Linked DNA regions of Homo sapiens: region 2 is linked to region 1. The links come from fine-mapping of genetic effects on gene expression. A gene starts in region 1. The other region holds a variant in brackets. All regions are shown on one strand. Distances are between the middles of the regions. Region 1 holds the start of PCMT1 (protein-L-isoaspartate (D-aspartate) O-methyltransferase). Region 2 overlaps LRP11 (LDL receptor related protein 11).

Region 1 (2,907 bases):
AATATTAAGTGGGTTACAGTCCCAAATCAACAATTTTATTCATGTTTAATATTGAAGTAAAGAACACTGTTTTGGCCAGGCACGGTGGCTCACGCCTGTAATCCCAGCACTTTGGGAGGCCAAGGCAGGCAGATCACGAGGTCAGGAGTTCAAGACCAGCCTGGTCAACATGGTGAAACCCTGTCTCTACTAAAAATACAAAAATATTAGCTGGGCATGGTGGTGCGTGCCTGTAATTCCAGCTACTCGGGAGGCTGCGGCAGAATTGCTTGAACCGGGACCTGGGAGGTGGAGGTTGCAATGAGCCAAGATCATGCCACTGCATTCCAGCCTGGGCTACAGAGTGAGACTCCGTCTCAATCAAAAGCAAAAAAACAAAAAGAAACCAGTTTTGCCTGTAGTTTCATTTATGGTCACATAATCCCAGAAAATAGGTAATGTTGATTTTGGATTGGAAGCAGGCCAGTGTCACATTTTACAAAATCGGATAAGAACTAGAATTTGAAAATTGTGCTGATATAGTGGCACAGATGTCTTAGCTTTGTTTCCTTCTAAAAGATTACTGGAGGCCGGGCGCTGTGGCTCATGCCTGTAATCCCAGCACTTTGGGAGGCCGAGGCGGGCGGATCATAAGGTCAGGAGATCGAGACCATCCTGGCTAACACGGTGAAACCCTGTCTCTACTAAAAATACAAAAAATTAGCCGGGCGTGGTGGCGGGTGCCTGTAGTCCCAGCTACTCGGGAGGCTGAGGCAGGAGAATGGCCTGAACCTGGGAGGCGGAGCTTGCAGTGAGCCGAGATCGCGCCACTGCACTCCAGTCTGGGCGACAGAGCGAGACTCCGTCTCAAAAAAAAAAAAAAAAAAAAAAAAAAAAGTTACTGGACTAGATGATGGCTGGATTCTGTCAGTCTCAGGTCTAATTAGGAGTCAGCGATTTGGACGCGACAAGCAATGTTCTCAGTGAGCTTCTCACTCATGGTCTTGCAGAGCTGAGAGCAATAAAGCCACGGTGGAATTTGTGAGGCTTAATTAGGTGGAAATGCACACTTACGTCGGGAGAATAACACGTTCACCAAAGGACACAGTGGTATTTTTTAACCAATCGCAACTCTGTACGTTGGTATTATTCTAAGGGAGCAAAGCTTTGCCCCAACCCCCACCCCCATGTCCTGGTACTCTTCCACTCTGAGAGCTTTAGAACCGGGGTTCCAAAGTCTCTGCTTAGCCTAACAGTGACGTGCTTGTCACAAAGCCAGAGGCCGGTGTACTCGGGTTAGAGAGGGCCTTTGTCGTTGGGTTTTATTCTTATTGTATTATTCGGGCTCCACCGACCCAAATATTAGTCAACTGGGTTGGGCGAGGTAGGACGGATGAAGCCCACCGTCTAACAATCTGGACATCTATAGGAGCAGATCCGCCGCTCGAAACAGCTGACCCAGCGACGACTGCGGAACCACTAGCAGCGTCTGCACAGATCGACCCCGCCATCCCGCCGTCCCGCTCGGTGACCGGAGACACAGCCGGGAACGCGACTGATCAGGCTACCGAGCCGGGCCGCAGGGCGAAAGCGGTGCGGTCCGAGGCCTCAGAAAGGGACACGCAGCAGCGGAAGTGGCGCTGACTCAGCCCGGCCTCCCTGCAGTCCCCTGGCAGCGGTAGCAGCCACAGGGGCGGGCGGCTGGGCCACACGCCTCCCCCGCCCTCGGCCCCACCCGGCCGCACCCTAAGCCGCGCGGCGTCACAGAGCGCATGCGTGCCGCGGGGGATGCCGGGAGCGCGCAGTGGCGGCAGCGGCGGCGACGGCAGTAACAGCGGCAGCTACAGCGGGGACGCGAGCGGGGCGGTGACGGTGTGGGAGGTGGTCTCACTCTTGGGAAAACTGCTGGGCACCGTCGTCGCGCTGAAGGTGGTTCTGTACCTGCTCCGAGTGTGCTTAGCGATGGCCTGGAAATCCGGCGGCGCCAGCCACTCGGAGCTAATCCACAATCTCCGCAGTAAGTGCCACCTCCGCCCGTTGTAGGGCAGCTGGGGCAGGCTGGGCCTGGACCGGGTCCCCCTGGGCCGTCCGGAACGTTCTGTCTGTCCCCGCGCGCCTGTTGGAGGGCTTCGGCGCAGAGTTGCCCCGGTAGTCCCGAACGGCGTGCGCTTGCAGTCGCCTCCCTCGGGACCTGTCACTCGTCGACGACGTGGACTGGAAGGGGAGAGAAAGAGCCAGGGGCCGCTGCTGGTGGGGGCAGGGGCAGTCGTCTCCCTGCAGGCCCTGGGGGAGGGAGTGCAGTACAGGTGATGCTGCTGTCACTCAGGTCCGCGTCCGGGTCCGGCTTGTGAGGGGCGTGCCTTCGGGGTGGGAGCGTGTGGGCTAGGCCTTATGGAGAGTGGGCTGGCGCTCAGGAGACCCCACCCTCGTCCCCTGCATTTTTCTCACCTTCCTCCTCCATAATCAACCTCGCTGCAAGCTTTCCCTCTTATGCAGCCTCCCCCGCCCTCCGTTTTTTCCCCTGGAGGGAGATGCCACCGTCTGATACAGGCGAGGGGAGGAAGATGAGAGTATTGCCATTGCAGATGCTGGGAGAAATTTCTCGGGCGGCTGTCCAGTGGAAAGCTCCGTGCGGGGCGGAGAAAGAACAGGGGATGCTGTTCCTGAGAGACTTGTATTTCAGGAGCCTTTGCAGGTCCTGGATCAGCAGAGGGTTGTGTGTCTGATGTTCTAACTTTTTTCAGGGCTACCATAGGCTTTAAAAACCTTATGTGGAGTTTCTTTATATCACTCTCCTTAGTTACTGTATTCCTTCTTCTGATGATAATTTTAGGATAGGATGAGTGCTGTGTCACTTTCTTTTTTTAAATCGAAATATAGCGTCCCCGTTTTGTTGGGAGACTACAAGGGCCGCAGTCTATAATAAAC
Region 2 (2,907 bases), 93 kb after region 1:
ACCATCTGGATCCTGAGTATTGAATACTGAGAATTCAAAAATGTCACAGACTTACTGCAAGTTTACCAGAGTCAGGGACCACCAGTGCACCACTCTATCCCCAGTGCCTGGCAAGGACCCTGCACACTGCATACACTAAGAAAATACACGATGACCGAGTAACAGGATATTTAAATGTACAAGACCTTAGCACCTCTCCAGAAGTGAATTGTGTGTGTGGTGAGGGGTTCCCTCTACAATACTACAATATCTTTAGTGTCGCTAAGTTCCATGCAATGGATATTTTAAAAAATTTGATGACCTAATCTTTCTTAGACATGTAGACGTTGGGCTGGGCGCGGTGGTTCACGCCTGTAGTCTAAGTGCTTCGGGAGGCTGAGGCGGGTGGATCACCTGAGGTCAGGAATTCGAGACCAGGTTGGCCAACATGGTGAAACCCTGTCTCTACTAAAAATACAAAATTAGCAGGGCGTGGTGGTGCACACCTGTAGTCCCAGCTACTTGGGAGGCTGAGGCAGGAGAATCACTTGAACCCAGGAGGCAGAGGCTGCAGTGAGCCGAGACTGCACCACTGCACTCCCACTCCAGCCTAGGCAACAAGAGCAAAACTCCCTCTCAAAAAAAAAATGTAGATGTTTAGAAAAGTAAGAAACATAGATGAATGAAATAAGTTTTACATTGTTACATTGTACAACAGAATGTGAGAACCATCATATGTATTTAAAGTTATATTATTAATATAACTGCATCTGCGTAAAGTGTCTATGAAAATGTGTAGGTAGCACTTTCAAATTGATGGGTCCTTTGCGTATTTCAATTAATTTTAACCGTACTCCTTAGCTGCACTCTTTTTCTCTTTCTAAAATTTTTGAAGTGACTTATTATATCAGCAATTGATTACACCCAAGAGCCAAGTCTTTCTTCAATCCTGTGGTATGCCTTTTCCTTGTTTTTTTAATATGTATTTTTAATTGACAAAAGAGGAGAGTATATATTTATGAGGCACAATGTGATGTTTTGATATATGTTTGCATTGTGGAATGATTACATCAAGCTAACTGACATATCTATCATCTCCCCTACTTGTAATCTTTTTGTGATGACAACATTTAAAACCTACTGTTTTAGCAATTTTGAAACAGACAATACATTATCATTAACTATAGTCACCATGCTGTGCAACAGATCACCAGAACCTGTTCCTCCGGTCTCAGTGACACTTTGTACCCTTTGACCAGCGTCTCTCCTTTCCCAGTCCGTCCCCCGCACAGCCTCCAGTAACCGCCATTCCACTCTCTGCTTCCACGAGTTCAACTGGTTTCACTAAACTCCTTAGCTTCCCTCTTGGAACAGATGCAGCAAATGGACCATCCATCTGTAAACAAAGTCCTCTCCCAGAATAGCCAAGCAATTGTCTTTGATGAAGTCGAGTCAAGAGAAGCGGGAGCATCTCTTCTCATCCCCTGGAGTGCTTCCTCCACCCCAACCCAGTAGCATCGGCTAAGCCCAAAACAGAAGAGAGCCTGCTTTTGTTATTGTGTTTTTAGCAAAGACTCTCTCATTCAGCAATAACCAAAAATAAAATGGAAGAGCCCATGGAGCGCAGAGCCAGAGGACAAAGCGCCAACCCGACATTGCCTTCCACAAGCAGTGGGAAGCGAGGGAAGGACTTTCTTCTCACCTCCTGTGGAGTAGGCTGCGCGAAGCACTGTCACTGACACGTTGTCAGAGCTTCTCTGCCCGGCAGTGTCC[G/A]TCACGGTCAGCTGGAAGGTGTAGGTTCCCTCCTGTAGGTGGGACAGCTTCAGGGTTCCTGATTGAGGCACCTGCCACACAGATGGGACACATCACGTCGAGCAGCAGACTTGAGCTCCGAGCCCAACACCATCCTCAACCGAAAGTCCATGTCCTCAGAGCAGCCCCAGGACCTGCCTCTGCACTCCGGCCCGAGGCTGCTGAACTACATCACACACTGTTGGCAGCTGGCCCACCTTGAACTCATAAGTTCTAGTTTATTTAGGTGGCCAAGGCCTTGACTGACAATCCCTTCACTTGTCTGCAGCAGTTGCTGCTCCAAACCTGCACCTCATCCCCAGCCTCACGCTCAGGATCCAGGCCCTGCCGTCTCAGCAGGGGGACTCATCAGCTTCAGGGAGAAAATCAGGACCATGACTAGGGCTCCACCACCCACCTCCTCCTGGTACCCTACCTGTACCCACTGTCACTTCCTTCTGACAGCCAGCAGGGAGAAGCTGTCCCTCCTGTGTTCCAGGCCAACCCCTCCTTCTAGTCCTTGCCCCCTTTCTTTCTAGGACCTTTAGAACACTGACACATCGACTCATTTCTCTTTCAAATGGCTCTGCTATTACTATGCTCAAGTTTCTCTCATCCTAAGAAACAAACAAAACAACAAATAAAAAAAATTCCCTGAGCTCTAAGGGCTCACCAGCCACAGCCCCGCTTCCTTCCCATCTCCACTTGGCTCCCTGAAAGGCCTGGCTGTGCCGTGCTTGCTGTTTCTGTTTGCTCACTTCCCATTTAGTCTTCGCCCACCCAATGTAGCTGCTTTCCCCACCATCCCCCTGAAACAGTGCTGGCAAAACTCACTAACTGACCTAGCAAAAGTCTCCTAGGTGTCAAGACCAACAATACTATTTTTAAAAAATCCATGCTTGGTTGGGCACGGTGGCTCATGCCTGTAATCCCAGCACTTTGGGAGGCCAAGGCGGGCGGATGATGAGGTCAGGAGATGGAGACCATCTTGGCCAACATGGTGAGACCCCATCTCTACTAAAAATACAAAAATCAGCTGGGCATGGTGGCGTGCGCCTGTAGTCCCAGGTACTCGGGAGGCTGAGGCAGGAGAATCGCTTAAAACTGGGAGACAGAGGTTGTAGTGTGCCAAGATCA

The links. PIP is the estimated chance that this variant, and not a neighbour inherited with it, causes the effect.
Region 2: its variant is fine-mapped to the expression of PCMT1 in blood mononuclear cells (TOPMed, PIP above 0.99).

What each region holds. Positions count from the first base shown.
Region 1 is chr6:149,747,961-149,750,867 of GRCh38, forward strand. PCMT1 (protein-L-isoaspartate (D-aspartate) O-methyltransferase) reads left to right here and starts at 1,781. Exons shown (of 8, transcript NM_001360452.2): 1 at 1,781-1,996. The coding sequence starts at 1,942. It also overlaps a transcript of NUP43 not described here. RefSeq lists enhancers at 781-1,746, 2,712-2,907 and silencers at 1,531-1,920, 2,151-2,387, 2,313-2,607.
Region 2 is chr6:149,841,302-149,844,208 of GRCh38, forward strand. It overlaps LRP11 (LDL receptor related protein 11), which reads right to left. Exons shown (of 7, transcript NM_032832.6): 3 at 1,682-1,823. RAET1E-LRP11 (RAET1E-LRP11 readthrough) reads right to left here. Exons shown (of 15, transcript NR_182438.1): 11 at 1,682-1,823. Among named protein-coding and RNA genes, the nearest start is that of RAET1E-AS1, 21 kb to the right of the region's middle. The variant G/A (reference allele first, on the strand shown) is at 1,753.